Linked DNA regions of Homo sapiens: region 1 is linked to region 2. Evidence: fine-mapped expression QTL. A gene starts in region 2. The other region holds a variant in brackets. All regions are shown on one strand. Distances are between the middles of the regions.

Evidence for each region. PIP is the estimated chance that this variant, and not a neighbour inherited with it, causes the effect.
Region 1: its variant is the best candidate, but not a certain one, in a credible set for the expression of FBN3 in skeletal muscle (FUSION, PIP 0.62).

What each region holds. Positions count from the first base shown.
Region 1 is chr19:8,029,318-8,034,681 of GRCh38, forward strand. No RefSeq gene overlaps it. Among named protein-coding and RNA genes, the nearest start is that of CCL25, 21 kb to the right of the region's middle. RefSeq lists an enhancer at 1-827. The variant GT/G (reference allele first, on the strand shown) is at 3,063.
Region 2 is chr19:8,147,146-8,152,509 of GRCh38, forward strand. FBN3 (fibrillin 3) reads right to left here and starts at 2,447. Exons shown (of 64, transcript NM_032447.5): 1 at 2,304-2,447; 2 at 169-352; 3 at 1-41. The coding sequence starts at 335. RefSeq lists enhancers at 1-633, 634-1,604.

The sequences.
Region 1 (5,364 bases), 120 kb before region 2:
GCCCTCTAAGCTACTCTGCGGGCTGGCTGATTCTTCCTGGTAGGGGGCGGTCCTGTGCAGTCTAGATTATTTAGCAGCTCTCTGGCAGCCCACCGCCCCCCCAGCCTCCCAGTGGTGACAGCCAAATCTCTCTCCAGGCACGGGCCAGGTGTCCCCTGGGGAAAAATCGACCCCAGATGAGAACTGTACTTTCCCAAACAGAGCTTCCAGGTGGCGTCTGGGGTAGATATTTAGGATCCTGCTGTTCTATGGACTCTGTTCTCTCAGCCTGGAATCCTCTTCCCGCATAGCACAATCCCCCACCAGCCCTGCAATCTTCCAGAACTAAACCCACACATCACCTCCCTCAGGAAGTGTCCTGTGGGCCCCCCATCTTATGATTTTGGCCCCCACGGATGCTGTGGTAGGTAAAATAAAGCCCCTTTGGCCAGATATGGTGGCTTACACCTGTAATCCCAACATTTTGGGACGCCGAGGAGGGAGGATCACTTGAGCCTAGGAGTTAGAGACCAGCCTGGACAACATAGCAAGACACAGTCTCTACAAAAAAAAATAAAAAAATTAGCTGGGGCTGGGCGCGGTGGCTCACGCCTGTAATCCCAGCACTTTGGGAGGCCAAGGCGAGCGGATCACAAGGTCAAGAGATCGAGACCATCCTGGCCAAGATGGTGAAACCCTGTCTCTACTAAAAATACAAAAATTAGCTGGGCGTGTTGGCACGTGCCTGTAATCTCAGCTACTCTGGAGGCTGAGCGAGGAGAATTGCTTGAACCCGGGAGGTGGAAGTTGCAGTGAACCGAGATCGCACCACTGCACTCCAGACTGGCGACAGAGAAAGACTCCGTCTCAAAAAAAAAAAAAAAAAAATTAGCTGGGGCCGGGTGCAGTGGCTCATGCCTATAATCCCAGCACTTTGGGAGGCCGAGGCGGATGGATCCCTTGATGCCAGGAGTTTGAGACCAGCCTGGCAAACAAGGTGAAACCCTGACTCTACTAAAAATACAAAAATTAGCCGGGCGTGGTGACACATGCCAGTAGTCCCAGTTCTACTTGAGAGGCTGAGGCAGGAGAATTGCTTCAACTCAGTGGGGGCAGAGGTTGCAGTGAGCTGAGATTGAGCCATTGCACTCCAGCCTTGGCTACAGAGCAAGACCCTGTCTCAAAAAAAAAAAAAAAAAAAAAATGCTGGTCTTGGTGGCTCACGCCTGTAATCCCAGCACTTTGGGAGGCTGAGGCGGGCAGATCACCTGAGGTTGGGAGTTCGAGACCAGCCTGCCCAACATGAAGAAACCCTGTTGCTACTAAAAAATCAAAATTAGCTGGGCGTGGTGGAGCATGCCTGTAATCCCAGCTACTCAGGAGGCTGAGGCAGGAGAATTGCTTGAACTCGAGGGGCAGAGGTTGCAGTGAGATGAGATGGAGCCACTGCACTCCACCCTTGGCTATAGAGTGAGACTCTGTCTCAGAAAAAAAAAAATGAGGAGGCAGGAGGGTCACAGTCAGAAAGAGACTGGAAGAGGCTGCGCTGCTGGCCGTGAAGGTGGAGGAAGGGGCCCCAAGATGAGAGCTGTAGGTACCTCTAGAAGCTGGGAAAGGCTGAAAATGGAGCCTCCAGGAGGAACCAGCCTCATCAACACCTTAATTTTAGGACATCTGACCTCCAGTGCTGTAAAATCATAAATCTGGGTTGCTTTAAGCTGCTCTGTTTCTGGTCATTTGTTTCAGCAGCCACGAGAGACTCATACCAGCCTCTTCTCTGCAGCCCCGAGTCAGCCCTGGAGAGCTGCCGGGCAGTCGGCCTGGCATTTGCCTTTCCTGGCATGAGCTTTGTAACCCGGCAGAGCTGCTGGCCGTGGCAAGCATCTCCTAGGAGATGGGAGAACTCAATGGAAAAAGGTTTCAGAGTCAGGGCTTGGGTGGACCACATTCCTTCAAGCTTTATACCATAGAGAGCTTTGTTAGGGAGGTGGAGAAGCAGACAAAGTGACTCGTGTTCTCTCCAATTTATTTATTTATTTAATTTATTTATTTTCAGACGGACTCTCTCTCTGTTGTCCAGGCTGGAGTACAGTGGCTTGATCTTGGCTCACTGCAACCTCTGCCTCGTGAGTTCAAGTGATTCTCCTGCCTCGGCCTCCCAAGTAGCTGGAATTACAGACATGCACTACCACACCCAGCTAGTTTTTTGGTATTTTTAGTGGAGACAGAGTCTCACCATGTTGGCCAGGCTGGTCTCCAACTCCTGACCTCAAGTAATCCGCCTGCCTTGGCCTCCCAAAGTGCTGGGATTACAGGCGTGAGCCACCATGCCCAGCCCAAATAATTGTTTTAAAAGGCCAGGCTGGTGGCTCATATCTGGAATCCCAGCACTTTGGGAGGCTGTGGTAGGAAGATCACTTGAGCCCAGGAGCCCGGGATTCCCAGGCTGTAGTGAGCTATGATCGGGCCACTGCACTCCAGTCTGGACGACAGAGCCTACCCCCATCCCTGCCCCCCGAAAAAGTTATTCCTATAAAGACCCAAGGGCCCAATCTTTGTTTCATGGTACCTTTGTTCTTTATTTCTTACTACTTATTCATTTTTAAATATTCTGAATAGTCAAAGTCAAGATGTAGCTGACTTTGAAATGCTTCCCTGCCAGGTGCAATGACTCACACCTGTAATCCCAGCATTTTGGGAGGCTGAGGCAGGAGAATTGCTTTAGCTCAGGAGTTCAAGACCAGCCTGGGCAACATAGCGAGATCCCTGTCTCTACAAAAAAATGACAAAGTTAGCTGGGCATGATGGTGCACACCTGTAATCCCAGCTACTTGGGAGGTTGAAGTGAGAGGGATCACTGGACCCCAGGAGTTTGAGACTGCAGTGAGCCATGATCACACCACTGCACTCCACCCTGGGTAACAGAGTGAGACCCTGTCTCAATCAATCAATGAATCAACATTTTAAATATGAAACATTTTCCACATTCTTCAACATGTCCTAGGGCAGTCCTTGTTCCCTTTCCCTAGGACAGCTCATTTTTGAATTTTAGAAGCAATGCTAAAGGGAAAATGTGTCTGTGT[GT/G]TTTTTTTTTTTGTTGTTGTTGTTGTTTGTTTTTGTTTTTTTTGAGACAGAATCTCACTCTGTTGCCCAGGCTGGAGTGCAGCGGCATGATCTTGGCTCACTGCAACCTCCACCTCCTGGGTTCAAGCCATCCTCCTGCCTCAGCCTCCCTAGTAGGTGGGACTACAGGCATGCGCCACCATGCCTGGCTAATTTTTGTATTTTAAGTAGAGATGGGGTTTCACCATGTTGGCCAGGCTGGTCTTGGACTCTTGATCTCGTGATCTGCCCGCCTCAGCCTCCCAAAGTGCTGGGATTACAGGCGTGAGCCACTGAGCCCGGCCGGGAAAATGTGTTTTAAGTTTCAGTTAGGCCAGGTGCAGTGGCTCACGCCTGTAATCCCAGCATGTTGGGAGGCCTGTAAGAAATAAAGAGGAAAGAAACACAAAAGTTGGCTTGCCAGTCAACACAGGTTTATTTTAGAGAAAACAAACCTGAGAGGAGTATTCCAGGCAAGTTGAGTCAGAGGCAAACTCTCTTACAGACTAAGAGGTTTTTTTGTTTTTGGGTTGTTTGTTTGTTTCTTGTTTTTGTTTTGAGACAGAGTTTCGCTCTTGTTGCCCAGGCTGGAGTGCAATGACGTGATCTCGGCTCACTGCGACCTCTGCCTCCCAGGTTCAAGCTATTCTCCTGCCTCAGCCTCCTGAGTAGCTGGGATTACAGGCATGTGCCACCATGCCCGGCTAATTTTTGTATTTTTTAGTAGAGACGGGGTTTCACCATGTTGGCCAGGCTGGTCTCGAACCTCGTGATCTGCCCACCTCAGTCTCCCAAAATACTGGGATTACAGGCATGAGCCACCGAGCTCAGCCCAGACTAAGAGTTTTAAGGATTCAGGGTGGGAGAGTTTATCAGAGGCTTGGACTGCTTCTGTGTCTCTTTGTTGTGCTTATCTGGGAGGGAGAGTTGCGTGTCTGTCCCCATACATCTTCTTGCAGCTGCAGGCATACCCGCCCCCCAAAAACCCCCACCGGGAGTCTGCCTTTGGCTTCCCTGTTTCAGTGCACCTGAAGGGAAAGGAATGTGCTTATTAAGTAAGGCCCCACTGTTTTACTGGGGCCCATTGTATGAGGGTGAAGTTTGGCAATTACCCAACAGACTTTCCCCCTATTTCCCTCTGTGCCCGAGCTGTCTTATCTGTGTTTTACTGCCTGCTCTTTCTGGCTGCTTGTAGTTAGAAGATAAGTGATATCCTTGAAATGTAAGAGGCTAGAGAGGGAGCTGGAACTTAAAGTGGTGGGGTTTGTCCAAGATGACAGTGCTTCTGCTCTGTCATTCCAGACCCTATAGTTGTAAAAGGACAAGGGGCGACGTGTTCTTTCTGGCTACTTCCTGCTGTTGTGGGGTGGAGGGGAGACACGGAGAGTTTTTTGGTCTTGGATTGCCTGCAGGAGCAATATTGTGTGTAGATGTTTTGGTAGTTGTCTACGAAATGGCCATAAAGGGTAAAAACATTAGTCCTAGGCTTTTCAGCAGCGTTTTTTTTTTTTTTTTTCTTTTGAGACGGAGTCTCGCTCTGTCGCCTAGGCTGGTGTGCAGTGGCGCGATCTCAGCTCATTGCAAGCTCCACCTCCCAGGTTCATGCCATTCTCCTGCCCCAGCCTCCCAAGTAGCTGGGACTACAGGCACGCGCCACCACGCCCGGCTAATTTTTTGTATTTTTAGCAGAGACGGGGCTTCACTGTCTTAGCCAGGATGGTCTTGATCTCCTGATCTCGTGATCCGTCTGCCTCGGCCTCCCAAAGTGTTGGAATTACAGGCGTGAGCCACTGCGCCTGGCCTTCAGCAGCGTTTCTTATTAGGCCTAATTGGTTGAGACAGAATCAACATTTTTTTCCCAATGACAGGCAGAGGCGCATGTTTGGGAAGACCCATGTGTTATTTGTTTGTTAGCAACTGTTATTCCTGGTATGAGGATAATAACTAAGCCAAATGCTACGGTAATTGAGACTCTGTGTCCGATATTCCACCCTGAGGGTACTACAGTATATAGTCCTTCTGCAAATAGTAGACTAAAGCAATTCCCATGAGGGTGGCATAGTAAATAATTTCCATTAAAAAGGTTTTAATATTTGGCTTAAAAGGAGATGTAGAAATGACAAAAAGTATTTGGTGAGGTAGGGGTGAGACTGAAATGAGTAATTTCCACTTAGTTACTTATCTTTTTTTTTTTTTTTTTTTTGAGATGGAGTCTTGCTCTATCGCTCAGGCTAGAGTGCAGTGGCGTGATCTCAGCTCACTGCAACCTCCGCTTCCCGGGTT
Region 2 (5,364 bases):
GACAGCAGTAGGCATGGAACCGGGAGCCGCACACATTCGGCCTTCGGGGACAGCGAGATGGGTCTGGTGAGCCCCTGCCCGTGTGGACATCCCCCCGGGTATTCCGCTGGCCCCAGGACAGCCCAATCCACACCGAAGGGGTCTCCCAGCATCCCAGGTACCACGCACCCCTGCAAGATGCCTGGGCTGCCCCGCCTCCGCACACGTCCAGGACCTGCAGCCTCCAAGGCCCCGTCCCAGCGGCCTTGGCCACCTGCCATGCACAACAGGGCCGACCAGGCCAGCAGGAGCCGGGCCAGGGGGCCCCTTGCCAAATACAGACCCTCCAGAGTCATGGCGTGTCCCCTGGAGGCTGCGGAGAGGAAGCAGAGTCAGCCCTAGATGAGCCCCCCACCCTAGCCATGGGGGACCCAACACAACGAGGAGGGCAGGGTGGTTGCCAAATGGGGCAGCCCCGGGGCCTCTGGGAGCCCAAGGAGGCATCCAGCCCCAACCGGGAAGCGGTGAACAGTCAGAGGAGGCTTCCTGGAGGAGGTGTGATGTTAGAGAAGGGTCTTGGGGCTGAGGGTGCACAGCCAAGGCAAGACGGGAGTGGGAAGTGGAAGGGAGGGGAGAGAGGGCCAGGTGGGGCCAGGTGGGGCCAGGCGTTGCAGGAGTGGGCATAGCAGTGTCATGCAGCTTTTGCTCATTCGTCAAGGACAATGAAGAGCCCTTGAAAAGCTTTGAGTGGGAGGAGCAAGGTCAGAAATGCATGTTAGGTGGTGTGGGGAAGGGCAGCAGGGTCCCGGGGGGGAAACAGGGTGTCAGAAGGCTGGGGGCTGTCCAGATGGGAGAGAGAGGAGAGGAATGGGAGGCTCATGTCGTGGGAGGTGGAGGGCATTGAGGAGATTCCCAAAGTTCTAGCTGGGACGGTGGAGCCCAGAGAGCGTCCAGGGTAGGAGGAAGATGGTAAGTCGTGGAAGGCAACAACCCCACTGTCCCTCTGTGACACAGATACCCCCACTCCTGCAATGCCTGGCCCCACCTGGCCCTGTGTCCCCTCGCCTCCACATCCCACGCCGGTCTTGCCTGGGCTGTGCACCCTTAGCCGCAAGACCCTTTTCTAACATCACACCTCCTCCAGGAAGCCTCCTCTGACTGTTCACTGCTCCCAGGTCAGGGCTGGATGCCTCCCTGGGCAGGGGGCCCAGGCAGGGGCTGGAACTTCCCAATGCAGAGAGTAACCCTGTGCCCAGCAGGGAAGGGACCGCTTCTGTGCCCATTTCACAGATGCACAAACTAAGGCCATCACACCATGAGTGAGGGGCTAAGCCGGAGCTTAAGCCCACGAAGAGAAGAAGGAGGGGAAGAAGATCAGGAACGGAACTCGCTCCTGCCCCCCTTGGCTGGGTCTTTCCTGGGCCATGAAGGACGGGAGGGAGAAGACCGGGACAGGAGACGACCGTTTGGAGGGTGGAGGCAAAATACTTGAGGGAGAGAAGCCAGACCAAGTGGCCTTCCTGTTCCATTCAGGTTCCAGGGAGGAAAGGAACCGGCCCTAGGTGGAGAATGGGCGGGGAGCCCTGCTGTGTGGTCTTGGCCACGCCCCTCTCTGGGCCAACCTGGTTGTCCAAAGGCCCCGGAGAAGGGAGAGACCCCTGTCAACGTTGGAGGGTTGGCTGGCTGGAGAGGGGCGCCCTCTTTTTCTTCTCAGTTGTCCGGGTCAGTCCGCACTCTGAGGCTCCGTGGACTCCAAGCAGCCTCGGGGCTTGCAAGCCCTCCTCCCCCACTCCCTCCGCCCCAGCCCCCTGCCTCGGGTCGGGTGGGGGAATTAGGTGGGGGGAGTCTCTGGCCTGATTTGCCTCGGTCCCCCCTACACACCGCTGCTTCTGCGAGCCACACCCTGGAGTTTGTGGAATGAATGAGCAGAGAAGGCGCGCCCGGCACGGGGTGTGGAGGCTGAGGGCCAAACAGCGAGGGATACCAAGCTTCGCCGACGGGGAGGGGGCGCCCCCGGAGCCCGCGGGGCGCGATCTCCACCCGGCAGGGCCCCCGGCCGCGACCACGCTTGGCTCCGCCCTCACCTGTGGGGTCAGGGGCCCCGCGCCCCGGCCGAGCCCCTCCCGCCGGGTCCCCGCGCCCCCACTCCCCACTGCGGCGGGCGCCACTAGAAGGCGGAGAGGGGAGGGGGCTGGGCCCGGGGCTGCCCGGCTGCGAACAAAGGAATCCTCTCCCCCTCCCCCTGCCGGCCCCCCCGCCCCCGCCTTCTCCACCCTTCAGCGCCCGCGATCTCGCCCCGCCGCTGGCCCCGCGCCTTCACCTACCTGCGAGGCGGCGCGCGTGGAGGCGGGCACGGCAGGCGGACGCGCGGGACTCAGCGCTGCAGGGCGGGCTCCTGCGGCGCCGGGGACCCGGGGCGGGAACGCAAAGCCGAGAGGCCGACCCCGCCGCGTTCCCAGCCCAGAGCTGCCACTCGGGGGGGAGTTGGGGGCGGGAGGAGTTGGAGGAGGGCGCGTTTGCACCTCTTAGCTCCCGGGGCGGGGACGGGGGGCTCCGATCCGGGGCGGGGAGAGAGGCTGCGGCTCGGGGGAGGGTCCGGGGCTCCGAGTGAAAAACTCCGATGGACTGGAGGGATGTGAGGGCGGGCTGGGGGCGCCTAGTAGGGGCTGCCGGGGCCGCGTTTTCGGATCGAGACTAAGGTGGAGGTGGGGCTCTGACTTTTGGAGGGCCTGGACGACAGCCTGGGCAGAGAAGTCCCGGGACTCACCTGGGCGGCCCTCTCAGGGCCTCCCAAGCCGCCACCCCCTCCCTCGAGCAAGGAGAATTGCGAGAGTGACGTTGGAAACTCACCTGGCTCTTGGAGCCTGGATTCTTAACTAGGCTGAGATCAGGGGCCCCTAAATATGTTGACAAAACATTGGGCAAAGCTGTATTTCCCAGGGAGAAGGGCCCAGGTTTTTCATCTGGTTCTCAAAATGAAGAGGTTAACAATTCAAACGGTGTAAACTTTCAAATCTCTTTGAACCTGTTTGTCCACCTACCAAAGGGACCAGACAAGAATTTTGGCTCCCTATCTGTTGTCAGTACTCCAAACAAAAATTTCTAGGCTTTTCCACTACCTTCATACCTTTGAGAATAGACCCTTAACATGGGGATCTGTCAGAAGCTGTGCGTTGGGCCTGAAGCTGTTACTCCATCCAGCAAACTCCTACGCATCTGTCAAAGTCCAGTTCAAAAATTCCCTCCCTATCCGCAAATTGTGAGTTTACTCTATTGAACTCCCAAAGCTGATTGTGCTGAATATCCCCCCACCACAGTACTTCCGGAATCTAATAAATAAGTAAGCCCAGTGGGCTTGAAACCAGGAGTTCGAGACTAACCTGGGTAACATAGTGAGACCCCATCTCTAAAAAAAAAAAAAAAAAAAAAATTAAAAAGAATTAGCCAGGCCTGGTGGCATGCATCTATAGTCCCAGCTACTCAGGAGGCTGAGGCAGGAGGACTGCTTCAGCCTAGGAGGTTGAGGCTGCAGTGAGTTATGATTGTGCCACTGCACTCCAGCCTGGGCAACTGAGCAAGACCCTATCTCCAAAAATTGGAGACCCTGTCTCCATTCCGGAAGTGCTATGGTGGGAGTATATTCAGCAAGTCAGCTTTGGGAGTTCAATAGGGTAAACTCACAATTTGCAGGGAGGGAGAGGATTTTGTTTATGTTTTGTTTTGTTTGTTTTTTGAGACAAAGTCTTGCCCTGTCACCCAGGCTGGAGTGCAATGGCACGATCTTGGCTCACTACAACCTCCACCTCCCAGGTTCAAGCAATTCTCCTGCTTCAGCCTTCCGAGTAGCTGGGATTACGGGCTTGTGCCATCATGCCCGGTAAATTTTTTGTATCTTTAGTAGAGACGGGGATTCACCATGTTGGCCAGGCTGGTCTCGAACTCCTAACATCGTGATCCACCTGCCTCGGCCTCCCAAAGTGCTGAGATTACAGGCGTGAGCCACCGAGTCTGGCCCAGAAGGGGATTTTTGAAGTAGGTTTTGACAGTTGCATAGGAGTTTGCTGGAGGAAACAGAACAGGCAAAGGCCTGGAGAAGGAGAGAACTTAGAACAAACATGCCTGGATGGAGTGAGGTTGGAACTTTAGGAGAGAGGAGAAGGGGAGGGAGCAAGAGGAAAGCAGGAAACATAAGAAGAGGCTAGAAGCACCGAGGAGCCCTCAGCAGGCTCCCCCCCCACCTCTGAGGGGAGACACGGTGGACTCACAGAAAGGGGAGGTTCTCCCAAGGCTCCACTTCCAGGTCTTAGACTGTGTCCGGGGAGCATTGAGGGCCCCAGGGCTGGGCTCGGGGAGCATGGGACAGACGCCGACTTCAGGGACAAGATCCAGTCATCCTGGCCAAGGGAGGGGCCCGTGGACCCTGTGAGAAGGGTCAGGTGGGGTGCTGGGGCATGGGGAGGGTGGACTGGGGAGGGAACCCCAGGATGGAGGTGGCCCAGCAGAGACAGGGGGGTGGGGTTCCTGTTGGAGGGTGGGCCCAGGGGCTATTGTGGACAAACCAGTTTCCCCGGCCACCTTGGACACCTCTTTCCAGGCTCCTCTGCCAAGGTCCACCCAGATTTGTTCTGCAACAAATGAATCTTACATGGGCACGGGGACAAGCACCGGGTGCCCTAGAAGCAGCCCAGCATAGGTGCAAAAGGTGGGGAGAGATTGTCCCATCCCAGGGACACTGCACAGCCACTGTTGCCATGGCTAAGTCTGGAGGAGGGCTTTCCTGGAAGAACTGTGGGCCAGGGAGCGACTCAGTCCTAGAAGTCTCCCTACCTGCCCTCCAGAAGAGAGGGGAGAAGGAAGCCGGAGGGTGTGGCAAGACCAGGATGTGGAGCTGTTGGAAGTCACCGCAACTGAAGTGCTCGAAAACGGCAGATAGTGGGCATTGGTTGTTCACAGCCCCCAACCCAAGCTACTGTCCACACCGCGTGCTGTAGTTTCAGACTTCCCATGGTGCCACCCTGGTCTGTTATGTTATTGCCAGTTATTGATGTGGTATCACAGACAGTGTCACCCCCCACTGTACCCTTATTACATCACACTGTTAAGAAGGGACATTTAGGCTGGGCATGGTGGCTCACGCCTGTAATCCCAACGCTTTGGGAGGCCGAGTTGGGCATATCACGAGGTCAGGAGATCAAGACCATCCTGGCTAACACAGTGAAACCCCATCTCTACTAAAAATATAAAAAATTGCTGGGCGCGGTGGGTCACACCTGTAATCCCAGCACTTTGGGAGGCTGAGGCGGGCGGATCACGAGCTCAGGAGATCAAAACCATCCTGGCTAACATGGTGAAACCCCGTCTCTACTAAAAATACAAAAAATTAGC